4 linked regions of the Homo sapiens genome follow. The protein of the gene in region 3 purifies or fractionates together with the protein of the main gene of each other region. This does not show direct contact. Each region holds a gene or a part of one and is shown on either strand. Other genes may lie near its edges.

Region 1 (7,023 bases), on a different chromosome or scaffold from region 3:
ATCTTGAGATTCTGGGATCAACATATTCCTTCCACGACAACCTGGAGATGAGATTAGAATCCTTGTGGGAATTCTCTGGGTTGTTGTGGTGTGCTAGACTTAATTACCCATGAATGATTTTTGTGCCTCTTGAGAAAATTTCAATAGCACATTCTATTAGTGTTTTTTATAATGTAGGATTTTGTTTCTAAGTGATTTTTTTTTTTTTTAAATTTTTTTGAGATGGAGCTTTTGCTGTTTCCCAGGCTGGAGTGCAATGGCGCGCTATCTCGGCTCACTGCAGCCTCCATCTCCTGGGTTCAAGCAGTTCTGCCTCAGCCTCCCGAGTAGCTGGGATTACAGGTGCCCACCACCACACCCTACTAATTTTTGTATTTTTAGTAGAGACGACATTTCACCATGTTGGCCAGGCTGGTCTCGAACTTTTGACCTCAGGTGATCCACCCACCTTGGTCTCCCAAAGTGCTAGGATTACAGGCGTGAGCCACTGCGCCCGGCCCCAAGTGATCTATTCTTGCCATGACTGTTAACTAAACATGGTGACAGGATTGCATTTTCTTTACATTAGATTTGAAAACCGATGTTGGTTTTGGGAGATTGCTGCAATTTTTAGGTGACTTCTCTTTCAGACTCTGAAGAAGAAGCTATGGAGACTACACCAGCCAAAGGAAAGAAAGCTGCAAAAGTTGTTCCTGTGAAAGCCAAGAACGTGGCTGAGGATGAAGATGAAGAAGAGGATGATGAGGACGAGGATGACGACGACGACGAAGATGATGAAGATGATGATGATGAAGATGATGAGGAGGAGGAAGAAGAGGAGGAGGAAGGTACTTAAATTAGATTCTGACATACGACATGAGTTATGTTTAAAGGAGGCACTTAAGTGTTTGTGGCTACTGATGTGTGATACATTGTTTGACATCTTGTCCAGAGCCTGTCAAAGAAGCACCTGGAAAACGAAAGAAGGAAATGGCCAAACAGAAAGCAGCTCCTGAAGCCAAGAAACAGAAAGTGGAAGGTAACTTGCAGAATTAGGGGATATGGGGGAGATAAACAGCACAAATGATGAATAACAAAGGGACTTAATACTGAAACCTGATGTTACATTGTAGTGTGCTGATGTGCTGTGTATAGAAATTTTGCTTTGGAAACTAACTTTTTACCACACTACAAGTAGACTGAGTTGAGCTTTTTTTGTGCAGGCACAGAACCGACTACGGCTTTCAATCTCTTTGTTGGAAACCTAAACTTTAACAAATCTGCTCCTGAATTAAAAACTGGTATCAGCGATGTTTTTGCTAAAAATGATCTTGCTGTTGTGGATGTCAGAATTGGTATGACTAGGTAAGTGCTTCACTGCACGTTACATACACGTGGGTCTGTTAATGCTTTTCCTTCCCCTGTTAGCACAGTTACTTTAGCCTGCTACTGTTAAACATGAATACTGTAAACATCTTCAAGGATTAGCATTAGTGAACTAAGTTAGAATTAAACTGTAGATCCCCTAAGTTGCAATTTCCATAATCAGTCGTAACTTGGTATAGCACAGAATAATTTTTAGTAAGTTTTTTTGTTGTTTTTGTTATGTATTGAGACGGACGCTGGCTTTTGCTCAGGCTGGAGTACAGTGGCGCAATCTTGGCTCACTGCAACCTCTGCCTCCCGGGTTCAAGCGATTCTCCTGCCTAAGCCTCCCAAGTAGCTGGGATTACGGGTGCACTTCACCATGCCTGGCTAATTTTTGTATTTTTAGTTGAGATGGCATTTCACCATGTTGGTCAGGCTGGTTTTGAACTCCTGACCTCAAGTGATCCACCCACCTCGGCCTCTCGAAGTGCTGGGATTACAGGCGTGAGCCACCCTGCCAGTAAGTTTTAATAATTTGGTGTTAGGTGGGAGAATCGCTTGAACCTGGGAGGCAGAGGTTGCAGTGAGCCAAGTTCGCGCCACTGTACTCCAGCCTGGGCAACAGATTGAGACACCGTCTCAATTTAAAATAATGTTTATTTTCTTGGAAGTACCTGAAACTATTAGACCTGTCTAGTCATCATAGTGAATACTTTTATCCAGACAGGATTCTCCTGTATTAGTGCTTATAGGTGTTCTTTTGTCAGCTGCTACTGTGAATTCTTATAAGCAATTTAGCTCCATGATGAAGACCTCAAACGTGAATGTGCATGTCATATCTTCATGCTGAGACCTTGTTCTGTAGCTGCAGTTTGCAGAGCCTTGACTTTGTTTTGCTAATACTAGGGGTGCTTTTTAAAATGTGATCTTTGTTTGCACCATCACATTTGTCTAGAATACATATTGTGGATTTTGATTTGTGTTTTCACCTGTTGTAATTTTGCCCTCCTCTCCACCTTGAAGGAAATTTGGTTATGTGGATTTTGAATCTGCTGAAGACCTGGAGAAAGCGTTGGAACTCACTGGTTTGAAAGTCTTTGGCAATGAAATTAAACTAGAGAAACCAAAAGGAAAAGACAGTAAGAAAGGTATGTAAGGCTTTATGAGATTATGCAATGAACTCAGGAGCTAGACTGCTAGGGAAAATGCTTTGTAACCCATTTCCCTTGGTTTCCTCTTATTTTTTTAAATCATTTTTTTCCTTTGGTTTCCTCTTAATGTGGGAATTAAATGAGCTACAGTGTTTACAAGAGTACTTGGCACTGCTTGTCAGTGTTATAGTGTAAATTCCTGAGTTAGGCAAGCAAGAGCACTTTTATACAGAACAAGAATTATTAGATGCACCTAAATTAACGTAAAGGGATCTTTCTTCACTGAAACTAGATTAGGTCCCTAATTACTCCCTATATACAGTTGTAATGTTTTGAATTGGTACATTCACTTTTTTTGTTATGCGCGTCTACTCTAGGTTGAACTCCAGTGTACCTAACAGAGAGTTTGACATCAGCTGTGACAACATGGAGGGACCACTTGTGTGTTGACACTGCTATATCTCCATATTTAGCACCGAGCCTTGTACATTATAGGATCTCAAATTATTTGTTGAATAGAGCTATGTGTGTTTTTCCCCTCTTTTTGTTGTTGCCCCCCACCTTTGGTTTTTCAGGCCACAGAGCTCATTTTTGTTTTTTTAATCTAGAGCGAGATGCGAGAACACTTTTGGCTAAAAATCTCCCTTACAAAGTCACTCAGGATGAATTGAAAGAAGTGTTTGAAGATGCTGCGGAGATCAGATTAGTCAGCAAGGATGGGAAAAGTAAAGGGTATGTTCTGTCTATTGAAATGTAAGGGTTTTATTAACATTAATGCACTTTCCTGCTTTATAAAAGAAATATTGGTTTGATTTCCTTAGGCGTGTAATCTTGGACAGTTTAACCTGTAAGTTTGTGCCTCAGTAACCCATCTGTACCATGGGGATAATGTACTCATAGGGTGATTTTAAAAGACAAGCTAATACTTACAAAGAAGCAAGAAATGTGCCTATCTTACAATAAATACTTTGTAAGTAGTAGCAGTTCTTTCAGTGAGGTGAGGTTACTATGAAAAAATTCCAAGTATTTGTAAAACTAGTGGGAAGTAAGAGGGAAGCTCGAGTTTTGATTGAAAAGTGGCATAAAACTAAGGGCATTTATTGTACTCAGATCTGAAGCAAGTTCTGTGTTGCTGAGGTAAAAGCATTTGTGTTAATATGGTTTTAAAAACCATGAGTTCTTCTCCCTCCATTGCAGGATTGCTTATATTGAATTTAAGACAGAAGCTGATGCAGAGAAAACCTTTGAAGAAAAGCAGGGAACAGAGATCGATGGGCGATCTATTTCCCTGTACTATACTGGAGAGAAAGGTCAAAATCAAGACTATAGAGGTGGAAAGAATAGCACTTGGAGTGGTAAGAAATTAGGCTTGTTACAAGGTTTCAGAATTGGTGGAGGGAACTCCTTTGTGTCTTTGTATTTCATAAGTTTATAAATACTTTTTAATCAAAGTTACTCAAATGTAGGTGAAGATCAAGGACATGATACCCCAAGTCATACTCTTATTTGGAATAGTAATTTCCAATCTTGAATGAGAGCTCTAAAATCATTTTGCATTGGAATACAGTAGGCAAATCAAGCTTCCTTTGTAGGCATGTTTTATACTTTAAATGACTTGACCATGTGCGTTTTGAACTCAGATGATTCTAGGAAAACAGACCAGTCATCAGCCTATGTAAGAACAACCAGCAGGACATTGCAACACGTACTAGGTACTTAATATGTTGAGTAACAGAAATGGATTTAGCTTACGTCATGAGTATTTGTATATTAACTCAAGCACTGAAATTCTTAGGAATAAGATATTACTGTTGTGACCGAAGCTGGGAACCACTGTTTCAGAGTCTTAGGAATGTGGCATCTCTATTTGCAGGTGAATCAAAAACTCTGGTTTTAAGCAACCTCTCCTACAGTGCAACAGAAGAAACTCTTCAGGAAGTATTTGAGAAAGCAACTTTTATCAAAGTACCCCAGAACCAAAATGGCAAATCTAAAGGGTAAGATAATACCTTTGTATCATCAGTTATAGGCTATATATGTCTTAGAGGTCTAAAGGAACGTAAGGTCATGTGATCCTGTCAGAAAAGCCAAATAATTTTAGCTACGTAAATGAGTGTAAAATAAAGATCATCATTTAGGTACCAACTTGAGAGAAGGGGCTTGGCAGCATCATGTGACAGTGAAGGAGCATGTGCCTGGTAACTTACTCTAAGCATTAACTGTTCATCCTCAGGTATGCATTTATAGAGTTTGCTTCATTCGAAGACGCTAAAGAAGCTTTAAATTCCTGTAATAAAAGGGAAATTGAGGGCAGAGCAATCAGGCTGGAGTTGCAAGGACCCAGGGGATCACCTAATGCCAGAAGCCGTAAGTTCACCTGGTTAGGGTGCTGTGGTTGGGGGTAGCACTCTCGGTGCTTTGTTTATTTTTTGCACAAATTCTGTGTTTCCTGTTGCTACTGAGTGAACAATAACTGGATATGATGACTGATTACCTGAGAAATAATTGATGAAATCTCAAGAAAATTCCTCTAGATAGTCAAGTTCTGATCCAGCTGTGTCAACTCAGAGTAGCAAGTTTGCCCATGATTTCCTGCCCCATCCACTGGGCCCCACCTGCTTGGGTTGCTTCTCCCACTTTCCATAGAAGATCTGGGGCAGGATATCAACTATGCAATGGCAATTAAAAAATGTAAACCCAGAATAGCCTTTACTTTAATTAAGGACTAGTTGGCTTAGTTGCTTTTAACTGCTTTTTCACTATAACAAGTATTCTTGGCTAGTAGTCATACTAGGCATTGTGCAAATTCAGTGTTACGAACTGTGACTTCACATAAAGTCACATTTTTTTTTCCTTCCCAGAGCCATCCAAAACTCTGTTTGTCAAAGGCCTGTCTGAGGATACCACTGAAGAGACATTAAAGGAGTCATTTGACGGCTCCGTTCGGGCAAGGATAGTTACTGACCGGGAAACTGGGTCCTCCAAAGGGTAAGGGAAGGAAGCGTGAGTGCTGCTTCCACTTGAAGGGGTTTTTGTTCTGTGCAGACCTTGAGTCTAATGTGTCTTCTCATTGAGCTCCTTTCTGTCTATCAGTGGCAGTTTATGGATTCGCACGAGAAGAAGAGAGAATTCACAGAACTAGCATTATTTTACCTTCTGTCTTTACAGAGGTATATTTAGCTGTATTGTGAGACATTCTGGGGTTCAAGCTGTCACACCAGTTAGTTTTCCATAGAGAGCTACTCTGTCACTGGTATCTTTTCCCAAATAAACAAGGCTACTTTCTGTGGGATGGCTCCCCAGCATGTACAGTTAACTTGGGACATGTGTAGTAGGTGCTTTTTATAATGGGCAATTTCATTTGGTGTTCTAGGTTTGGTTTTGTAGACTTCAACAGTGAGGAGGATGCCAAAGCTGCCAAGGAGGCCATGGAAGACGGTGAAATTGATGGAAATAAAGTTACCTTGGACTGGGCCAAACCTAAGGGTGAAGGTGGCTTCGGGGGTCGTGGTGGAGGCAGAGGCGGCTTTGGAGGACGAGGTGGTGGTAGAGGAGGCCGAGGAGGATTTGGTGGCAGAGGCCGGGGAGGCTTTGGAGGTAAGGCACGCAGAGATAATGACACCACATAGCATGTGCTCTTCAGACCCTGTGCCCTGTCACGGTTCCTAATCACTGGGGAGGAGGAGCTTTGTACCCATTCTTTTAACAGTGTCTTGCCTTCCTCCTGTAGGGCGAGGAGGCTTCCGAGGAGGCAGAGGAGGAGGAGGTGACCACAAGCCACAAGGAAAGAAGACGAAGTTTGAATAGCTTCTGTCCCTCTGCTTTCCCTTTTCCATTTGAAAGAAAGGACTCTGGGGTTTTTACTGTTACCTGATCAATGACAGAGCCTTCTGAGGACATTCCAAGACAGTATACAGTCCTGTGGTCTCCTTGGAAATCCGTCTAGTTAACATTTCAAGGGCAATACCGTGTTGGTTTTGACTGGATATTCATATAAACTTTTTAAAGAGTTGAGTGATAGAGCTAACCCTTATCTGTAAGTTTTGAATTTATATTGTTTCATCCCATGTACAAAACCATTTTTTCCTACAAATAGTTTGGGTTTTGTTGTTGTTTCTTTTTTTTGTTTTGTTTTTGTTTTTTTTTTTTTTGCGTTCGTGGGGTTGTAAAAGAAAAGAAAGCAGAATGTTTTATCATGGTTTTTGCTTCAGCGGCTTTAGGACAAATTAAAAGTCAACTCTGGTGCCAGACGTGTTACTTCCTAAAGAGTGTTTCCCCTGGAATGTCACTGGAGAGCATGGCAAAGCCAGCTCTGCCACTTGCTTCACCCATCCCAATGGAAATGGCTTAGTGCGTGTTTCCAGTATCCCAGCCCTAACTAACTTGGTTGAAATGCTGGTGAGGGGACCTGCTCCTGCAGCCCTGGTGCTGACTTGAAGGCTGCTGCAGCTTCTCCTACTTTTAGCAGGTCTGAGGATTATGTCCTGAAGACCACTCTGGAAAGAGGTGCAGGAACAGATTAGTC
Region 2 (7,023 bases), on a different chromosome or scaffold from region 3:
GATGCCGGCGCCCCTGAGCTGCTCAGCAGGGTCTGTAGGAAGAGGCTGTAGTGGAACTCCACCAGCTCGCAACTTGAGAAAAAGACAACCATCTTCTGGTCTTCCTCAAACTACATCGATACAAAGGGAGGAAAAACCGACATATTTTAAGATTAGGTGACGCCAAAACGAATATTTCTCTAAACTATACAGTCATGCTGACCCCCATTTGGAAATAAAGGTGACTATCTTTGAATTATTTAAAAAAACAAAAACAAAAACAGTGATACTCCACTCTACAAAGAATGCAGGAGAGGAAAACGACACAGCTATCATTTCAAACAGGTTTCCCTTATCTGACAAAAATAAACACACCTGGGAGCACAGCTGTGTGGGAGCTCCGTTCCCTTTATTCGCCCAGGGCTTGCCACATGCAACACTACCTGGCTGAGACCCTACATATGCAGAAAACCTTCACCCTTAAGCCCTTCCACTTACTATTTTCTCACATCTCAGAGTCAGCGCAGAAATCTAGTAAATAAATACACAAATGCCAAGACTCTTGGAGAAACATGAGCACAAGCCCCTACGTCTGCCTCACATCCAGCTGTTCCCGCCACCTGTGATGTTCCTAATATCAGTCCCAGGAAAGGTATCGAGAACATTTCAAGCTGAACATCATGGCTATCATTGACCTCTGAGTTTTTACCATAATCCTAAAACCTGACTGAAAGGATGTATATCAAAGTCTGCATCCGGAATGCAGACATAAGTTGGAAAACCTCTGATTTTTGGTGTCTCAACTCATTGCTCCCAATGGCTTAACACAAGAAAGCAGGCCTTTCTTCCCTGAATCAAGTCGGCTCTAGCCCACAGTCCCACCTTGCATTTCTGAAGGATGAAGGCCGCTAGGCAGACAAGCCTCAGTTTGCTGGGAACCACAGTCACATGCTGCTTGAGACTCTCTGGTATTGCAAAGCTGTCCAGCTTGTCGCCAGCTGGTGGAGGACAGACCTCCTGGACCGCTTTGTCCTTTGGGTTCAACTGGTCATGGCTCTTGTCCAGGACAGAAATACTGACTGGATCATGCAAACTGATATCAGCTAGCCGCGTTACACCTTGGATAAAAGTAAGAAGGGCAAAGCAGACAACAAACACACCATGAAACTGGTCACAAAAGCGTACCCCCATACAGCACCCACCCATGTATGTTAGGACTACGTATGTTACCCCATGGGTATCACCAAGTCCCAGCACTGATCCGCCCTAGTGCCAACGTGTGTGTTGCAGGGAGATCTACCAACGTATCTTTCCATAGCCATTCTATAAACACTCACCTATGGAACAGCGTCCAAAAGATAGCAACAGATACTGCGCCCACCCCCACCTCCCAAAAGGGTTCTTTGGTCAAGTAAGTTATGGCAAATCTTGGATTTCAAAGGTTTCACAAAAGCGTTTTTGCTATAAGCAGCCCTCTCAGGGCCTTTATTGTGTTAATGTGCCCTGAGAATATCCAAGGGAGGGATGTGGGGCATTTCTCAAACTTTCTTGACCACAGAATCCCTTCTTCGTGAATCATCCCTCAAAAATTAGAACATAGGGAACTGTGAGGGACCACATGCATGGCATCTGGTACATGCACATCATAATGTGGCCTAGTAAATCAAGGAAACCAGACAGAAAAACGTGAAAGCTGCACTGCTGGTCAATGACTCACTGTGTGGGGTGGATCTGGTAGAGTGATACAACTTTTCCAAGCCTTCGTGTTCCCAGTGATAAAAAAGAGAGCTAAGAATTTCCATCTCACATGGATGGAAGACAGAGAAGCGCTTCATTGATATATTTTTTAAGTTTAATAGCTCTATAGGAGGAAGAGTGATTACATTAAAAATGCACTCAGATAAGAGGTCATCATCTTCAGTGCAAGGGCCCTGCTCTCCATGGGTTGCAAGTGCACAAAAACCTCATGAAACCACCAAGCCAATAGCAGCCAGTCTTTTCTCGTCCTCATCCCTGCCCTTTCTCCCTTTCCCCATGCCCTGGGGAACATATCTGTCTTGGATGACTTGCAGAGGGAAGTTGGGAGTGTAGAACATAGAGTTTGAAAAGGCAGTCTTCTAAGGACAGCTCTCTCCCTGCCCCCACCTCCCTGAGGTTGAGAATCACTGCAGCAAACAACCCAGGTTAAATCTAGGTCCTTCCTCTTCATTAAGAACAAAGAAGGACCCATCACTTCTTTTCAACTCACCTTCTGTGAGTGTCGCTGATAGCAAGACATTCTGTCGTTTTTGGCATTCAGCATTTACAGCATTAAGTATCACTGTGATGTCCTTTTCAAAACCCAAATCCAAGATTCTGTGATTGTAAAAAAAAAAAGAAATTTTCAACTATATGAAGAGCAGATGTGGTCTAAGGGGCTACAGAAGTTGCAACAAGGAGAGGAGAAACAGCCCTTCTCTTCTACCTGTTATCATCCTGGGACGAGGCTCACCTGTCTGCTTCATCAAACACCAACCACCGCAGCCGACTAAAATGAATGTTCTTTGTGGATTTTATATGATCCACCAGGCGTCCAGGAGTTGAGATAAGGATATTTATTCCTTTGCGGAGTCTGTTTAAAATTATATATCATAAAAGAAAGTAAATCAAACAGGGCCACGCCAGTAGAAAACACAGGAAAAAGGCAAAATAGACAGACTCATTTCATGTACAGTGCAAACGTGCCATAGCCTGAAATCATGACAAAACATAAAAACTGGGTAGAAAGCTGTACTTGAGTCTTTCCCTGTACTGTGAAATGCAATTGTTAAGATCTGAAATTACATTAAAATCATAAAACTTTAACTTTGAAAGGGATCATAACTACATAATCCAATGCTCTTTATCTGACTCATAAATCCTCTCTAGAACCTTCCAAAGAGATTGTAGTCTAGCCTGTTCTCGAAGGTTTCTGTGCCAGAGAATCTAGTATCTGAGCAAGTGATTCCATGCCAATGTGCTCCAATTGCTAGGACACTTTTTTCTTATGCTAAGCCCTTTATGTAACTTCCATTCAACGGGGCTCAGCTTTGTCCCATGGGTTATATACAATAAATCTAATTTCTCATTCCCCAGACAACCATTTTCCTGTCAGTCCACCGTAATAAAAGCTTCCAATTTTTAGCACATTTTTTTTTTCTTTGTAGAGACGGGGGTCTCACTATGTTGCCTAGGCTGGTCTCAAACTCCTGGTCTTAAGTCATCCTCCTGCCTTGGCCTCCCTAAGTGCTAGGATTACAGGCATGAGCCACTGCACCCAGCCTAGCTGGATATATTTTCAAGCTTCCCTTGCAGTTAAGTATAGTCATGTTTGTTTTAGCAATGGGATAAAAGGTAAAGGGAACACGCCAATCACACAAGCACCTTCAGAGGGAGCAGGTATGAGCATCTCTGTACCCGCTGGCAAGAAATTAGATGCAATGGTTGGAGTGCCTGCAACTATCTAAGACTATGAGGTAATCTTAAAAATGGAATCCTCCCATAGTGGCACAAAAAGACAGAAAGAGCTTGGTCCCCGACACTGGAGCACCAGGCCAGCCTTGGACTGGCTCTGTCAGATTTCTTAAATGTGAAAGAAAAATAAAACTTGTATATTGTTTGTGCCACTGTTATTTGTTATTATTGTTGTTATTCACAGCTGAGTCTAATCCTAACCAATGCTTTGAGGTTTCAGGTTTCATATTTACTCCTCAGTTATAGACTACATGCATCATTATTGAGTACTGATTATTAAGCTATAATACAATAAAAATGTTTTCAAAAGAATGAAGACAATTTGAGATTTACTTGTTGCAACGATTTTCAACTGACACCCATTACAAATCCTAATAAAGGAACAAACATATTCGGTTGTAAAAAGCAAGTTACAAAGCATTATATAAGTGAATGATCTTGTTTTTGTAAAAGCAAACAACAAAACCCCAAACTCTTAATGTCCACAAAAATGAGTGGCATGCAGGTGGATGTATACTAAACCAGGGATGCTATAGAGCATTGGGTAGGTGGGAGTTAAGAAGTTGACAGCACTGTTACTAGCAACATCAGAAGGAAACCTGTTTGTAGGTTTAATATTTTAAAAAACAGCACCGTCTAGAGGTGACCGCTCCCCACTGACTCAATCTGTCCCTGTGCACCGGGACTAGGAAGCAGAGCCTGAGACAAAGCTCTCAGCAGGTTTAGAAGGACCCAGCCTTACTGAATAGGAAGGCAGGACACATTCAAGAAGGAAACAACAACCAACAAACCTCTTCCTACCTGGCCTTTTCTGATTTTCTCTTCTCTCCTCCCATTAACACTCCAGGCACAATCCAGGTGAAAGGCTACAGAAAGACAGCAGACCACAGTCAGTGCAAAGCCCCCTTTACTAACATCAGACATTGATTCCAAATTCCCTTTCCTTAAACAAGGCATGGGAGAAAACTGGTGCTTCTCATTGTATAAGGTGTTATTGTGCAGACACAATTCCTAGGCATTGCTACACCCATGTTCACTATCAGCAGTAACTTGAATTATAGGTATATAACTAGCTTCTACCACAGTGAGAGAGAAATGTGAGCTTCTTAAATCATTCAAGTAGCTTGCCTTTCTTTTCCCACAGAGCCTGAACTGAAAACACATGTCAGTAAGTCTACTGCCATTTTTGGGGTTAAGATAAAAACCCAAGCAACACCCTTCCCTACTCTCCACCCCTAATAAAAGAAAGGATGGATCAATTCATGATCCAATTTGGTGAGCTGGCTGGCTTTGATTCTGAAGCCTTCACTCTCCTTTCTTAAACAAATCCTACTTGCAGCTAAGTTGCTTTCTACTGGATCACCATCAGGCTGTACCTGTGAATTTCTGTATGTGGCTTGCTAGTGACTATGATGAACAAATTGCAGGACTTTATGCACCAGGAGTCACTGATAATTCAGCTAAGCTAGAAATTGGTAGGTTTAGATCAGTAAAAACCTATAAACTGCCTAGAGAGAGCAGAGATATCCAGGCAAAAGGAAATAATTCTTATCTCTTTGAAAATAAAGAATAGACTGTAGTATATTAAATCCTTCCTCAAAGTCAGCAAGCAAGATGAAATGGAACTCATGGTTTGCCTTACCTTAAGCAGTTTCTGGACAGTGTCAAAGCTTTGTAGAGCTAGCTGTAAAAATTTTAAAAGTTATAGATGATGAACAGGATCCCCCTTTTTTTTTTTTTAAAGACAATTTAATGTGATTAGGATCCAAACTTGGACCTCAAGTTAAGATTTAAGAAGAAAAAAAATCCTATACACAGAATCTAATATACCTTGTTCTTAGACTGGTTCTGCAACCTGTCAGTTTGGGCAAAGAGGGTAAAGACAACACTTCTATTTCTTGGACATACACAAAAATAGTGTTTTGTGCTCCCTCTGCTGGCTCAAATTCCCAGAGTGCCACACAGAGAAGTTCAAGTCTGTGGTGCACAAAAACGTAAGAGAATGAAACAAAGTAACCTGAATTTGACTCTCCTTAGAAAGAGAAAGAATATAATATGTACGCAGAGTAAACCACAATAGTGACGCAACAGGGTAGCCTCTGGGAACTTCGCTCTCAAGGAGCGATGACTGTATTCTACAACTGTGCCAGGATATCTGAAGCCTGGGAGATGGTCGCTCCTCAAGTTTATATCAATAAAACAAAAGCAAACCAACAGCTCCATTTGAGAACAAAGCAAGTGAAAATTAAAGTAGGCTACAACCATTAACAACCTTCAAAAATGCCTCATACAGAATCCCGTTCTTAAAGAACGTATATACAGTTTCCACATATTTAGTATTCATGAAGCATCCTCGAGAAGTAGCAAGTTTGCTGCTGTAAAAATTTTAATAGCTTCTGTGCCTGCTCCTTCATTGGACTGAGCTGAGATAGGGGACTGCAGGCTATATGAAAAGCTGACTTCAAATCATCTCTGTGATCAATTCTCTGTAAGGAAGTGATTAGCATTTGATATAGAAACCACATACCCTAATCTGAAGTTGCCTCTGTAGGCAAATAAAATAGATCAGATAGAAGAGATTTCCACCAAGAAAGAAAAAAATATTGAAAAGTTTAACTTTTAGGAACAAGTAACATTTTTGGTAGCAGTAGCTTCTTAAAAAAAATAAAGGTTCATTTTCAGAGCCAACTGCTTTTGGTTTTGAATAAAGTTGCTAAAAAATTGCATTTCTGTAGGTTTTTTTTTAGCAACTTAATTCAAAACCCAATTAAACAGACATTTAATAGTATCATTAGTTTCTAGACAATAGGAAAATACTTTTCCATACTTATGATTCTCAGAGACTACTTGAATTTTTCTCCTTGACAAGAACCAGAAGGATGGTTTCCAGGCAAATGGAACTGGTGTGCAGTGGCTTGTGCAGTAGGGAGAAACATGGTAAAACCACTTTTAAATTCAACGGGACATTAGTGAAAGCATGTGCTTAAAACTTGTCCCAAAAGGGAGCCTGCTTACCTCTCTCGTTGGCACGAGCACCAGGGCATAGGGGCCATCACTGCGCTGTTGACACACAGAAAAAAAATGCCATGAGCAGGATAAACAAAGGCAGACTCCAAACGGACAGGACACAGGGGTGGCCGGTTGTAGAACATCAGAAGCACTCTTAATGAAGAAAGGGACAAAATAAGGTTGCCCACTGATGTGGTCTGGCTGTGCCCCCACCCAAATTTCGACTTGCATTGTATCTCCCAGAATTCCCACATGTTGTAGGAGGAAGGGCAGGGGGGCAGGAGTGAGGTGGTAATTGAATCAGGGGGGCCGGTTATTCTCGTGATAATGAATAAGTCTCACGAGATCTGATGGGTTTATCAGGGGTTTCTGCTTTTGCGTCTTCCTCATTCTCTCTTGCTGCTGCCATGTAAGAAATGTCTTTCGTCCTCTGCCATGATTATGAGACCTCCCCCAGCCATGTGGAACTGTAAGTCAAATTAAACCTCTTTGTCTTCCCAGTCTCGGGTATGTTTTTATCAGCAGTGTAAAAATGGACTAACA
Region 3 (7,423 bases):
TCACCCAATCTGGCCAGTCCCCTCCATCTGGCCCCCGGAGTCAGGTTTCTCTAAGGGCCCAGCCCTGCTCAGAGACAGCCTGCAAGGCTCAAAGGAGGAGCGAAGCCTGGTCCCGCCCTGCCCTCACAGGCCCTCTCTGGGCCAGAGACCCTCGTGGGGCTAGGGACGCGCATTCCTCAGGCTGCCTAAGCTCGCTTATCTGCCCCCCTGCCCATCAGCCGAGTGCTGACAGAGGCCCAGACCCCTTGTTTGGATGCTGATAACCTCCTGCGATGACCCTCTCCCACCTGCAGAGACTGGGAATGGGCTGAGTGTTGGGAGGTCCCCTTCCAGCAAGGCAACTGGGGCCCAGGCCCCAGGTCCTAGCCCAGGGCCATGAGGGTAGAGGATCCCACAGTTCTCCACCCTCCCCCAGGCCCAGGGCCACGCTGGGTGCTTCCACAGTGCCACCTGGCGGTCCCTAGGGAAACATCACCCAGCACAGGAAGAAGCCACACAAGAGCTGCAAAAACTCCACACCACTTTATTTCAACCTTTATCCAAAAATGTAAAAACTATTAAAAATGTGTAGCTCTGAGCTTCAGGCACTAACCTCCAATTCTCACAGGCAGGTGGGAAGGGAGGCCCCGGGCATGGTGAAAATCAGAAAACCACGGCTGTGTGGAGCACAGGCCCTCTCCTAGCACCAAAGACCCAAGTCCCTCCCACCCAACCCCCACCCAAGCTCTCCTCTTCAAGGAAGAAATATTTACAATTGTTGAAACTTGTCAGGGAACAGGGTGCATGGCGGTGCATGGCACATGGAGCTGACCTGAAAAGAGGAAACAAGGAATCAGCATTTAGGCCCTCACCTGCTTCTCCTGCCCCTTCCCAGAGCCTGCTAGGCACTTCTCCCCGCAACTCACCTAGGAGGGCTAGGGCCTGCCCCCCTGCTTTTTGGCAGGAAGGATGGGGCACAGCTCAACTTCTTCCTCATCACTGTCCTCTTCCTCTTCCTCGCTCTCCTCCTCAGAAACATCATTGCTCATCGTAACTGGTGGACACACAAGCAGTAGAAGGATGGGGTGTTAAGACCAGACCGTTTCACACCGCATGCCATTTCTTCACGCCGTGGTGTTAGGCTTACAGGGACCATGACCTCCCAGTGCTTATGGGCTAGGTGGGAAGAACCTCAGACCCTAAACTGGGTCACAAAGAGCCAAAGGAGTCTTCATTATTGGAGCTGGAGAAGTTGGGCCATGTTCCATGGAGGAGGTAGGCTTGAGTAGACGGAAAGGAGAGGGCATGTCATGCACAGGGCACAGCGTGGAGGGCACACAGACCTGTACAGGGCTGCACTGGGAGATGAGGGTGGGATGGGGCAGGAGTGCGGAGTGGGGGAAGCCTGATGGGAGAGTCCACTGGAAGCAAAGGAGAGGGCCCTCCCCTCTTCTCACCAATCTGGTGCCGCCCAGTGATCCGCACAGGGCCAGAGCCCGACTTCAGGCGGAAGGTTACAGGTGGTTGGAGCTGGAAGTCATCCAGACTGAGCTGGGAGGAAGACAAGGATGAAGGCCTGGCCCACTCCTAGCCCACCCCACACTGTAATGAGTGCTAACGTCCTCAATCCCCTCACCACCACCACCACCACCACCAAGGCAGAGCTGGGGAACTCACCATGGGTTGGCAGGACAGCTTGAGGTTGGCCACAGGGACTGCGATCTCCTGATGGTCATGGTTCCGGGCCACAACTTCTACCACATTACACTCGTCTTTGGCTCCCTCGGTGAGGCAGAGCTGGGAACGGTACACAGGGCCTCAGGGTCTCCTCAAGTGAGGGTTGACACCACAACTAAAGGCATCTACCCTAGCACCTGCCCAGCCTCAGAGGTCCCGGTTCACCTGGCCAGGGGAGCCGCCCATGCCGGGGGGTTAGGCTGAGGATGTGTCTCCAAGTAAAGGGGATCCGGAGGTTGGGTAGAGACCTATATTGCCTGCCTGGGCTTATTCATTAAAACCCCACTCCCCTGCCCCTCACCATGGTTAGTGCCAGCACGTGCTCCGCATCATCCTCTTCCTCTACCTTAAAGGTGAAGGAGCGGGTGTGGCCGGAGAGCTCACAGCCTGGTAGAAATAACAGTGAGTATGCCTGAGCGTGTGTACGGGGCTGGGCAGCGGGGGATGTCACCAACCCGCCGTCACGTGTAACCTTGGGCGGACGGGTCATTTACACGTCCACCTCCGTCTCTTCTCTCAGAACACCTGGGACGCTCTGCCGTGGGCCCCGCCCAACACATCTGGGGCAGGGATCTCGCCACCCCCTTTGGCTGTGCGTGCGAGGCCCCCTCTCCTGCGGGAACAGCGAAGCAGCCCTCCGCCCACACCCACGCCTTGAAACCCTCCGCATTCCCGCCTCACATCCCTACCTCTTACCGCCCCAGTACCACCCTCAGCCTCTCCCTTCACTAATACCGAAGAAAAAACTGTCCATAGTGACCGGGGCCGGGACCCGTAGGCCCCCGACACCCCCGGCCCGCGTTCGGCTCTCCTGACTCAAAAACGCTAAGGCAGCTGCAGTACCGGCGGCCATGCTGTAAGAGCCTTCTTCAAACTCCGCCCCCGACACGCACAAAGCCGGGGACCCTCGGCCAGTTCCGGCCCCGCCCATTAAAGGAGACGCACAGTCCTGGAAAAGAAAAGGCGCCGAGACCCCGCAGCCCTACCCGGAGCCCGCAGCTTCTGCTCATATTTTATCAAGACCGAAGAGAAAGGAAGTAACATCACAGAAGAATGGATTTGGGGTTTATGTTAACATCCTTGCTCATTTCCACGACCATGAGGGTGTCCACTTCCCCAAGCTCCTCGCTCTGTGTCGGAAGAGTGTCTCCCACTCTTCCAACCCAGGGTAAGCTTTCGTTAAAGGAGTTATAGATATAAAAATGTAAACCCTTCTTACTCCTCCCAGCAAAGGTGGGGTTCAGGGCAGTGCTTTTCTGCTACAAGCAAAGGAAATGCACTCAGATTGTCTTTGCCTCAAGAGAGCCGAGGAGCCTTAGGAATTTCCATCCCAACACGTCTGTCCTGTCTGTCCTCTCGGCTAAGCCTCTCTTAATTCTTCCTGCTCTAAAGACCCCGCAACTTGCTATGCCTTCACTGAGACTTAGCTGCTGGCACTTGCTAGCAGAGGACTAGTTAGCTCATGTGTGTTGGCTGTTCCTGGCCCACCCACGCTTTTTGAGCTTTTAATTCCAAATCATCCAGGAGTATCTTTGCGCCGTGGATTATTTTGTCAGTTTATGCTACTCGCGCCATCTTTCGCCTTTTAAGAATCAGGCAAACTGTGTGCTTTCTATCCTAATAGATGGCAAAACTCAAACTAGAGGCCCTATTTCACATCCAGGTTATAACTGTGGCAAGAGGGTGGGGTGGCTTGGCTAAAAACTAGTCTACTTTTCTTAGCTCTTGTCTTAATGAAAATCTGGAAGTCTTACTGGTGATGGAGGTAGGGGAGGGCTGCCTTCAAGATCCAATCTCTAACTTGGAACAGCTGTGGAGAGGAGAGAATACCTGCTTGTAGGTGAGGCATGAAAGAGGAGAAAAGGGAGGGGGCAGACAGGAAATAGATTCACACAATACAACACGACAAGCATTCACTTCAAGTTTTATTTTGCCTCTTGCATGGTCTTTTACAGTTCGTTTTCTACAGGAACTGAGCTCTGATCCAAACAATCAATAAAAATGTAATTCCAACCTTAATATTCATAACCAGGAAATAGCATAGCACTTCATGATCCTAGAGTGATGAAAGCAAGACCAGGGCATCTGTTTCACAGTCACCTGTGACCAGACCAGCCAACATGATTACTAAAAGCCAAGATAAAACCAAAAGCAAACTTGCTAAAAAATCCTGAATTCCATGAGGTTAACTCTGAAATCCTCCAAACAAAATGCTAGAATTGTCCACTAGTGTTAAGACGAGAAAACTGAGGAAAACTCAGCTGTCTTACTATCTGGTAAGAGTCTTCCCTTCATCTCAAGCCCTCAAAAATGCAAACTTGGTTCCAGCTTTACAACATACCATATCCTTCTATCGGTTAAAGGTTTCTAACCTAAAAACCTTCTCTCCTTTCTTCTCACCTATTTAGTGCATACTCAAAGGCTTTGGTTGGAAGTCACTAGGTACCACTAGGTACAATGCTTTAGGGCTCTCTCAAAGCCCACAATGGTGGAGTTCTGTGAAAGAAAACTTAAGTTTCTTTCTCTTTACCCCTCTCCCCTCACTCAGCTCAAAGTTAAACAGCTGATGCAAAACTACAGAGAAGCAAGATAACAAAATACTGTTATCAATCTATGGAGAAATCAGCCAGCCATGATGAAAAAATGAGTCCTGCCGACTATCTGCCAGCTTCATGCTCAGAACCCTTAAAAACACAGAATCTAAATTAAAATACATGAAGCTTTCACAATCCGGTTAAAGGAAAAAGGTAACTGTAAATAACTGGTTAAAGTGTGCTCATTCATTCAGAAATTAGATACAAACATGCAAGAATTAAAGACTCTGATTTAATAAAATCAGTAGTAACAGGTCTTGAGATTAAACAACTGACCTGAGGGCAAATGGGACCAATCAGTCCCTGAACCCTACCTGACATGTCAAATCCAACATTTCACATGCTGACCTAATATTGAGGTTAATTTCCAGAAGTAACTGCACTTTTCAACAGATTAAGTCCTACAAAATTAGGCTCTCGTACCCCAAATGGTCATGGCCTACGCCTAGGTGGGAGGCACTTTAAAAATAATAAAACTTCAAAAAGAACAAAAACAACCCCAAACCCAAAGACAAAAGTAAAGAAAATCCACTTTTCACTGGTTTACATTATTCAAAGTGCCATTCTGAACCAACACCCTTTCATTTATAGAGGAAAAAAATTTACAAAAACAGTAAACACAAAGGATAGTCAGGTTACAGCTAGTTTATATACAAAGAAATTTACAAGTTTGTCAATTGTAGGCTTTTGCCACAAACAAATGCACATTTGTCCCTACAAAGTACAACATGCCTGAACCAACAGTCATTACAGGAGACAATTGGCCACGGCTTTACAAAAAGCAGAATAACTGCCCCAAATTGAAATTATTTATTCAGCTTAAACTAATGCCACAACCATCCCACTTGGAATCACTCCACCCTGACACTTCTGAAACCCACTCTTTCTTTCTTTCATCTCTGCCATGTCCCCTAAGACTGAGAGGCATTTCACTCAATAAACCAAGGAAGATGACAGATGTTATCTTGATTACTCTCAGGTGAGAAACGCAACCACACTGGATGCAGAAAATAGTGCTGACTACATTTATTGAAGACTCTCTCCCTGTATAAGCCCATGTAAAAGGTCTCAGCACCTAACACAAGACTCAAAAAGGAAGCCCACATCTCTCTTTCATACAGGATTTGCTGCAATACTATATTCTTCCAACCAGTGAGTAGTCTCAAAGTGTGATGGGTGAGTTTTACATAGTCTTCTTTGTTTCGAATCCAATTGGCTGATTTGTTACCATTCTAGAGGCTGAACTGTATGAAGACCTCAACTACCATTCACAAGGTGCAGTTAAGAGACTTTTGGACAGTTCACAGTGTCAACAAATGTCACAGGCTCCGACCAAGTATAACCACATCCTTTGGAAATCCTTCCATTTTTGCAATTTCAAAACATCCTAACTTGCTGTAAAATTCCAGAATTCTTTTATCATCTGGTCTCACTTCACAGAAAGCTCCCCGGGAGCCTAGAAATAAAACAAATATTCAAAACATAAATAAGTCACTTAATTAGTATAATTATAGATATAAAACTATAATCTTCGAGATGGTTAATATAAACAGGGCTTGTCTGTCTACACCAGCTCCTACATTTCACACAATTAAAAAAATTCATATTCAAAAAATTCAATAATGAGTGGCGTGAGCCACTGCACCCAGCTTCCCCCGCACCCGAGACAGAATCTTGCTCTGTTGGAGTCCAGTGGCAAGATCACGGCTCACTGCAACCTCCGCCTCCCGGCTTCAAGCAAGTCTCCTGCCTCAGCCTCCCGAGTAGCTGGGATTACAGGCGCCTGCCACCACTCTTAGTAGAGACAGGGTTTCACCATGTTGGCCAGGCTGGTCTCGATCTCTTGACCTCATGATCCGCCCACTTCGGCCTCCCAAAGTGCTGCGTGAGCCACCGTGCCCGGCCTTTTTTTTTTTTTTTTTTAAATTAGGTAGAGATGGGGTCTCAGCCATATTGCTCAGGCTGGTCTCAAACTCCTGGACTCAAGTGATCCTCCCACTTCGGCCTCCCGAAGTGCTAGGATTACAAGCATGAGCCACTAAGCCCAACCAGCATTTCTCAATTATTAATACACATGCGATTCTTCACCACTAATTAATTCAGAAACCAAATCATAAAAGGTGGGAAAAGCAGTATAAATTTACAATTCACTTCTTTCCTTTTATATCCAAAAATATATAGTTCTTTCCCTATCTTGCCCAAATACCACCAACTCCACAAATATGTACTCACCATTAGCCTTCAGTGAAGACAGGAGGCAAGCCATCATGCTTTTGGCCACACTTGGGTCAGTTACTTTTTTGTGAATGTCCATCTTTATCAGAGAAGGGAAATTAGCAAGGAAAGTTTCTGGCAGTACTTCCTGTTCTTCATGGAAACTCAACATTATTTTCTGGAAAAATTAGAATCTCTTGACTTTCACAATAGTTACGCATTAGATATCTAACCCAACTACAGAACTTAGCAACAAGAAAGCAATATTTAATAACTCTTCCAGTCACTATGTAAATTATCTCACACAGGATTATCCTATAATTCTAGCTGAAGCATTTTCACTTTCTTTGAGACAGGATCTCCTTCTGTTGGCCAGGCTGGAGAGGGGCAGGCATTCTCCCTCGCGTGCACGCGCTCTCTCTCTCTCTCTCTCTCTTTCCCTATTTATATCGTCAGGGCTGGTCTCGAATTCCTGGGCTCGAGTGATCCTTCTATCTCGGCCTCCTGAAGTGCTAGAATTACAAGTGTGTGCTGCCGTGCCTGGCCACCGTTTTCACTTTTAAAAGCTTGGGCCAGAGATCAAGACCATCCTGGCTGACACAGTGAAACCCTGTCTCTACTAAAAAAAAATACAAAAAATTAGGTCGTGTTGGCGGGCACCTGTAGTCCCAGCTACTCGGGAGGCTGAGGCAAGAGAATGGCGTGAACCCAGGAGGCGGAGCTTGCAGTGAGCTGAGATGGCGCCACTGCACTCCAGCCTGGGCAACAGAGCGAGACTCTGTCTTAAAAAAAAAAAAAAAAAAAAGTTTGGGTTGGGTCTAGTAGCTCACGCCTGTAATCCTAGCACTTTAGGAGGCTGAGGCAGGCAGACTGCCTGAGCTCAGGAGTTTGTGACCAGC
Region 4 (6,929 bases), on a different chromosome or scaffold from region 3:
GGTAGAAAACTAACCAGAAAGCATGCATCTATAAGGTTAGAGACTGTGTCTACCTTTTTCACTCCTCTATACACAGCACTAAGCAGAATGCCTGGCACACAGAAAGTTCAAAAACACTTGCAAGGTAGCCCTGTCACACAATGGATAGCCTTCTGAACTTCCAGAAAATACTTGCAGAATTAAGTGAATGAATGAATGAGCATATCAGGAAGCCAGCTTAAGAGAGGCTCTACTCTATGGTATAGCCCCTGAGCTGGAGGGCCCAATTTTGTCTTAAGCTCCAAACATTACATGAAACCAGTTTACACCACAACTTGCTATGTACCCATTTACTCTAACATACCACCAATTAGATTATGTACCCCATAATAAGTAGACAAGTTTTTTTAAAAATAATTTTAGCATTCTGATTATGCCCAGGGAACTGTTTCTTAATGTCCAACATTTTGTCTTGCTCAAATCACTTTATCTTTGAGCTGGGCAAAGGCACTGTTGTTATAGATTGTATATAATGAAGAAAATGTTTACTTGCCTATTAGAAACAAGACTGGGAAAGAATCTAAACATACTTCTTTTCTAACAAAAATTACTTTTTGAAATGCTGAAATGCTTTTAGGAAAAAAAAAGAAAGTGCACATGTAACTGTGGGCTATAGGCCTATAAAACACAAGTAATTTACTGAGATTTCCACGAGATTTCCATAAATAGCAATATAGTAAGTGGCAGTGTGATCTACATTTTCAAGTGAACAGGTTGGGTCTCACCTACCGGGCTTCCTCACCTGTTTGAGGGCCAAATGGGGTTTGTGGCGGCCCATTCTGTTGTGATTGCTGTAAAGGACTGCACATAACACATCTGTTTCTGCATCTAAGGTTTGGCTCTTCAGCGACAGTATGACGAGATGGCATTCTTTAATTACAGCTGCAATGCAAAGGTCTGAAGCAGAGACATCTAATAAGATTTAGTATGTATTTCTACAGTAAGTATATTATATTAAAAACACACTAAAAAAAGCATCTTTCCTTATTTGTTTTAAAGGAATCAAAAACTAATGTAATCAGTCTCAACTGTAAGAACGTAAGGATTCTAAGTATAAGAGAAGTTGGAAAATGGTAACAGATGATATAAAGTCCAGGAAATCATTAAGAGAACATCTGTAAAACAAGAAGCTGTATCTTTGCATTGCATTTTATCATGGTTTAATAATCTTTCATATGAATACTTTGCTGTCAGTCATTTGGTGTACACTTACGCCTCATGTGTACACTTAACCCCCACCTTGAAGGTAGGGCACATGTCACAACATGTGTAATAACTCTCTAACTCCCCATGTCGCTATGCCCGAAAGCAAGACAGAATGAATAAATTCACAGTCTTCAAAATCAAGGCTTCTGTGTTTGGATATCACTTTATGAGAGACACAAACATATTCAGAAAAGAAAAACCACCACAGTAACTGGAAATCGTATTATTTGATGAACACCGGGTGCTCATCAGCAGATGCTTCCTAGTCTGAAAATCTGTAGAAGTCCCTAAGATGTAGTTCATGTGTTATTTATGGCTCTAAAGGCAGCACTAGCATTCTAAATGGAAGTAAAGGCTGGTTGCTACCTAACAAGAATTTTCTTACTGTCCCAACAACTACCTGAAGACAGAATGGGCTGCCTCGGGGATGGGTAGTGAGTTGGTGAATTTCCCAGGCCTAATAGGAGTTGTTAAAGAATTTTTGAATAGAGAAAGAGGGAAGATTAATCTGTAAAGTGTGTAGGAAGGATAGATGGGATAATCTGTAAAGTGTGTAGGATGGATATATGGGAAAGGGGATGTGATGATCTAAGTCAAGCTTGTCCAACCCGCCTTATTTTGTTGTTCTGTTCTGTTTTGTTTTAGGCTTTTTGCAGCTTAAAGCCATGGTTTTTAGTTTGTCTCTAGTGAAAAGAGGGATGAGGAAAGGGCTTTACCAGCCCAACCGGAAACAAAGAACCCATGACTGTATTCTCTCCCTTGGGCCCCGGAGCTACGTATTTAATATTCATAACAGCTTCCATTTGAGTGTTCATTTACCATGCCAGGCAGTGTTCCAAATGCTTTCTCTACATTATCAACTCTTTCATCCCCCCAAACAGCCCTATGAGGAAGGTGCTTTTATCTCCATTTGAAAGTGAGATCAGTGAGGCACAGAAAGGTTCAATGACTCCTTCAAGCTCCAGCAAAGGGTAGAGCTAGTATTCAAACCCAAACAACCTGGCTCCTGCGCCAGGCTCCTACCTACTATATGCCCTTCACCCTAACAAATACCACCCATTTAGGTGGCAAAACACCGTCGTTTACAGCGCACTGTCTCCTAAATTACATCATTAGATATTCCCAACGCCCCTGTGAGGAGTAGGAGGACTAACTCCATTTCACAGATAAGCAGATAGAGGTCCGAAAAGATTGCAGTTTGAGTCCCAGTGCTTAGGTGACGTCCACCGCTCCTCGGGTACAGGAAAAAGAAGGAAAGGGGAAATGGACGGAAGGGTAAACAAGACTCCGAAGACCCGGGTGAGCAAGGGTTCCCAGGCAGCACTGTTCCCCGGCACCAGCTGAGTCCACCTCTCTCCGCCCCCTCAGCGCACGGCTGAGCCTTGGTCTTTCATCTCTCCAGCCAAGCCCTGGGTTAGCACAGCTGGTTCAATGAAGGAATGCGAAGCCAGAGGCCCTACAAGCTACACCAGCAAAGTGCTGGGACCGCTCGACCCCTACGTGCCCCGCGCCCCTTCCCAGCGTCCCCCGGGCCGGGAAGTCCCGGTACCACCCCCGCCCACATGCGCCGGCTGGGCCTGGCGGCCTCCCCCGGAAACGTTCCCCCATCCTCGCCCGGCGCCTCACTCACCAAGGGCCGCGCCGGGGTTCTGCACTGTCACTGCGCTGCGGTTCCCCGCCTTAGGGATTCTCACACGGTTCCACGGCTCCAGGCCCGGCGGCACCGCAGCCATCATGCGAGGCGGGGGGACTTACGAAAGGCGGAGCTACGCGAGAGCACGTCCAGCGACCGGAGGTGGGGCGATGGGACCCAGTCCGGGCCGGAAGGGAGCAGGGGGTGGGGCTCGGGCGGGGCCAGGAGCCCGGCGGGAGGCTGCCTTCATCGAGTAAACGCGTGGGACTGGGAAGGACCCAGTCATCTGTATATTGGTTACCAACACGTGGCCGCGTAGAATCATGGGGGAAAAAAGGCCCCATCCCAATACTAACCAACAGAATCTCTGAGAATGCGATGAGGAATCTGCGTTTTGTTTAAACTTAGCGCAGGGGATTCGGAAGCACAACCAAGTTTGGAACTGTTAAATACTTCTAGGCATTTTACAAATATGGAAAATGAGGCCCAGAATTGAGTTGGTGCTTTTACCCCCAACTCTGCCTCAGACATTAGGGGAAAAAGGAAGAAATGAAATGAAGAGGTTTGTGCAAGGTGTGGAATTTGTAGCGAAGAAGCAGTGATTTGCTTTGAGTGGTAAAGGAAGGCTCCTTTATGTCTTGAACCACAGCAAAACCGAGATCACATCAAAGAAACTTGGAAGACACCTGTCAGTCATTCCCACTTTTGTCAGTCTCCAAGACAAGATCATATTCCAAGCTCTAGTGATCCTTACCTCATTAATATCTTTCTAATAATTCATTTATCCTCAGCCATGCTAATGCCCCCTTAAGTTCTTAACACTCCCACAGTAACGTATTAGAAAAACAGTGAGTTTTGGAAACAGACTGCCAAGGTTCTAGTTCTAGCTTTGCTGTTTACTAGCTCGGTGATCTCAGGAAATTTACTTACCTCCTCCTCCAGACCTTAGTATCCCTGTGGGTAAAATGAAGATGATAATAATAGTATCAATCTCACAGACTTGTAAAATGCCAAGGCACTCCTGGCATACAAACAATGAACATTTACCATAGTTAATATTGTTGATGTTATTACTACTATTTCATGCAAGCAGTCTTACTTTATTGAAACACTTTCCATGCTCTTTCTGTGCGCCTTTACACATCTACCTACTCTACCTGGGTCATCCTCGGAAACACAATCTCCTTTCCTCAGCTCTGGGGTCGTCACTTGGGGTAATTCTTCCTAAACACCCCGTCCTCACTCCATAACTTGATACAGAGGCCCCTTTAATGTGTTACCACAGTGCCCTATGTTGGCCTATGTATTAGTTTTCTATTGCTGCTGTAACCAATTACGACAAACCTAATGGCTTGAAATAAGTAGAAGTTATTTTACATTTCTGGAGGTCAGAAGTCCAAAATTAATTTCAATGGACTGAAGTTGGCAGGGCTGGTTCCTTCCGGAATCTCTAGGGAAGAATTCATTTCCTTTCCTTTTCCAGCTTCTAGAGGCTGCCTTCATTCCTTGGCTCATTTCACTATCCTCCACCTTCATTGTCAGCATGACATTTTTCAGTCTCCTCCTCTTCCTCTGTCTCTCTCACCCTCCTGCCTGCCTCCCTCTTAAAAACACCCTTGTGATTACATTGAGCCCATCAAGATAATCAGGATAGTCACTCCATCTCAGAATCTTTAACTTAATCACATCTGTTTTAGAACTCCAAATTCAGGCTCATGTACCCGATGGGCAGCTGATGCCAAATATTGAGATACTGGTGCTTGGAGACAGAGAAATATTTATTCGATTTGACCAAAGTTAGAGGGCAAGAGAGCAAGATCTCTCAGATCCACAGTAACAAAAAAGAAGCAGGGAGTTTTTATGGAGCTAGAGAGTAATGGAGAGGGAGTTTCAAGGAATCCAAGGGAAAAGTCTGTGTTTCTTCCATTTCAGGTAACACCTTGTGCAGCCGTATGTACATGGCAGCTGGTTGCAATGTCCTTCCAGGAATTCATTCCTTCTGCAAACTATTCTTATGACCCTGAAGTTATCTCCTTCTGCTTGACAAAGAAACAGTACATCAGCAGTTTATAATTACATTGTGGGAACAAGGAATACTGGGCAAAAAGCGAGTGGTTAACATGTACAAGCAAGCAAGGGCCTGTTCAAAATTTTCATTATTTCATGCACACACACACACACACACACACACAAAAATGCTGGGGTGCTGAAATCTCAAGCAGCTGAAATCTCAAGGTTATATAGCTACAAAATCCCTTCTCAGTGCAAGGTAACATATTTACAGATTATGGAAATTAGCATGTGAACATCTTTGGGTGGGAGGTGGAGGGATCTTTATTCAGCCTACCACAGCCTCTCTCACAGAATTTACCTCGCTTTATTGTATTTCTTTGTTTACTTTCATGTCTATTTCTCCAATGGCATATGAACCTACTGAAAGCGAGAACTACCATTGACATAGCTAACTGGTCTTTCTATCTCAATGCTTAGTTCAGAGCCTGGCATATAGTAGGGCCTCAGTAGATATTTACTGGCTGTATATGAGGTTGGATGATGCTTGAATAGAGTCTTTTGAAGGATGAATAGGAACTCCCCAGGCAGTTAAAGGAAAAAGGATATTCCTACAGAGAGGTTTTAAGCAGCATGGGTTTGAAGAATCACTAGTCCTGAGTTGGTACTGCTGGGACGTGATTTGTGCTGAGGGGTGGAGCTGGGAATAGTGGTGTCAGTCAGATCATGGGAAGAATTTGGCTTTTTACCTGAAGACCAGTAGTTCAGAAACCTGGCTGATTATCAAAATTGCCTGGATAACTTAAAAATAGAGATTTTCAGGTCCCACTTGAAAATTCTTACTCATTAGTTCTGAGTAGGTCTGTTTTGAAAAGGTCTTTGTGATGGTACTCTAGGTTGACGTGTCCTTGCTATAGGTGATAAAGGAGTCACTCACTGAGTCTTAGGCAGAGCAATTTTTGTCAGCTTGCCTCAGAAGAAGAGCACCCTGGAGAACAGATTTGGGAGAGAAGAGGTTGGAAGTAAGGAGACCAGGCCCATCTGTTCTATTACAAAAGCTAAGGCCAGAAATGATGCAGACCCAAACCTTCAAGCATTTCTACTGGATATAGACAGTATGACTTATTTAGATGTCTAGCATGGGTGGAGAGTGTCCCTTATCTGAAATGCTTGGGACCAAAATTGTTTCAGATTTCCGGTTTTTTTTAGATTTTGGAATACTTGCAAATATACATGAGATATCTTGGGTATGGGACCCAAGTATAAACATGAAATGTATGTATGTTTCATATCTACCTTAAACACATGGCCTGAAGAAACTTTTATGTAATATTTTTAATAATTTTGTGCATGAAACAAAGTTTGTGTACATCTCAATCACCCATGTGGACAGTCTGTGGTTGTTTGGTGTCAACATCATTCCTGACTCTGAATTTATATGCTACTGTTTTTTTGTTTGTTTGTTTGTTTGTTTGTTTGTTTTTTGAGATAGAGTCTCACTCTGTTGCCCAGGCTGGAGTGCAGTGGCACGATCCCGGCTCACTGCAAGCTCCACCTCACAAGATCACACTATTCTCCTGTCTCAGCCTCCCGAGTAGCTGGGACTACAGGTGCCCACCACCATGTCTGGCTAATGTTTTTTTGTATTTTTAGTAGAGACGGGGTTTCACTGTGTTAGCCAGGATAGTCTCGATCTGCTGACCTTGTGATCTGCCCGCCTTGGCCTCCCAAAGTGCTGGGATTACAGGTGTGAGCCACCGCACCCAGCCTATATGCTGCTGTTAAGCAACCATTTTTTTCTCTTATTCACACATATGTGCTTAATAGTAAAAAAAATGATATACCATTAATACAGTGAAAATTAATGTGTTCAGGGTAACTTGTATCATCATGTCAGTACTCAAAAAGTTTGGCATTTTGGAGCACTTCAGATTTTGGATTTTCAGTTTAAAGATGCTCAACCTATTTACATATTTACATGTCTAGAATGATGATATGGTTTGGGTCTGTGTCCCTACCCAAATCTCATGTTGAATTATAA

The links.
Region 1: the proteins of NPM3 (region 3) and NCL fractionate together in Homo sapiens (co-fractionation; 4 studies listed by BioGRID and IntAct, with this or other methods). This does not show direct contact.
Region 2: the proteins of NPM3 (region 3) and DDX31 purify together in Homo sapiens (co-immunoprecipitation; 2 studies listed by BioGRID and IntAct, with this or other methods). This does not show direct contact.
Region 4: the proteins of NPM3 (region 3) and RMP64 purify together in Homo sapiens (affinity purification with mass spectrometry; 4 studies listed by BioGRID and IntAct, with this or other methods). This does not show direct contact.

Annotation. Positions count from the first base shown.
Region 1 is NC_000002.12:231,454,473-231,461,495, reverse strand, and holds part of NCL (nucleolin), read left to right. Parts: intron 1-629; coding exon 630-827; intron 828-931; coding exon 932-1,018; intron 1,019-1,053; exon of another isoform or gene 1,054-1,128; intron 1,129-1,202; coding exon 1,203-1,344; intron 1,345-2,370; coding exon 2,371-2,495; intron 2,496-3,106; coding exon 3,107-3,230; intron 3,231-3,695; coding exon 3,696-3,853; intron 3,854-4,371; coding exon 4,372-4,495; intron 4,496-4,731; coding exon 4,732-4,865; intron 4,866-4,972; exon of another isoform or gene 4,973-5,052; intron 5,053-5,359; coding exon 5,360-5,486; intron 5,487-5,559; exon of another isoform or gene 5,560-5,696; intron 5,697-5,871; coding exon 5,872-6,095; intron 6,096-6,228; coding exon 6,229-6,305; 3' UTR 6,306-7,023. UniProt on the Homo sapiens protein: Nucleolin is the major nucleolar protein of growing eukaryotic cells. It is found associated with intranucleolar chromatin and pre-ribosomal particles. It induces chromatin decondensation by binding to histone H1.
Region 2 is NC_000009.12:132,645,962-132,652,984, forward strand, and holds part of DDX31 (ATP-dependent DNA helicase DDX31), read right to left. Parts: intron 6,532-7,023; coding exon 6,487-6,531; intron 5,156-6,486; coding exon 5,114-5,155; intron 4,338-5,113; coding exon 4,273-4,337; intron 2,591-4,272; coding exon 2,471-2,590; intron 2,335-2,470; coding exon 2,228-2,334; intron 1,098-2,227; coding exon 862-1,097; intron 111-861; coding exon 1-110. UniProt on the Homo sapiens protein: May have DNA helicase activity and RNA helicase activity. Probably have ssDNA and RNA dependent ATPase activity. Plays a role in ribosome biogenesis and TP53/p53 regulation through its interaction with NPM1.
Region 3 is NC_000010.11:101,780,822-101,788,244, forward strand, and holds NPM3 (nucleoplasmin-3), read right to left. Parts: upstream 2,626-7,423; 5' UTR 2,570-2,625; coding exon 2,452-2,569; intron 2,104-2,451; coding exon 2,018-2,103; intron 1,777-2,017; coding exon 1,657-1,776; intron 1,531-1,656; coding exon 1,437-1,530; intron 1,034-1,436; coding exon 915-1,033; 3' UTR 906-914; intron 812-905; 3' UTR 504-811; downstream 1-503. Other genes in the region: OGA (protein O-GlcNAcase), read right to left, coding at 5,630-5,766, 6,543-6,702. UniProt on the Homo sapiens protein: Plays a role in the regulation of diverse cellular processes such as ribosome biogenesis, chromatin remodeling or protein chaperoning. Modulates the histone chaperone function and the RNA-binding activity of nucleolar phosphoprotein B23/NPM.
Region 4 is NC_000003.12:113,016,667-113,023,595, forward strand, and holds the start of RMP64 (nucleolus and neural progenitor protein), read right to left. Parts: upstream 3,006-6,929; 5' UTR 2,982-3,005; coding exon 2,876-2,981; exon of another isoform or gene 2,852-2,875; intron 2,744-2,851; exon of another isoform or gene 2,400-2,743; intron 937-2,399; coding exon 782-936; intron 1-781. UniProt on the Homo sapiens protein: May play a role in cortex development as part of the Notch signaling pathway. Downstream of Notch may repress the expression of proneural genes and inhibit neuronal differentiation thereby maintaining neural progenitors.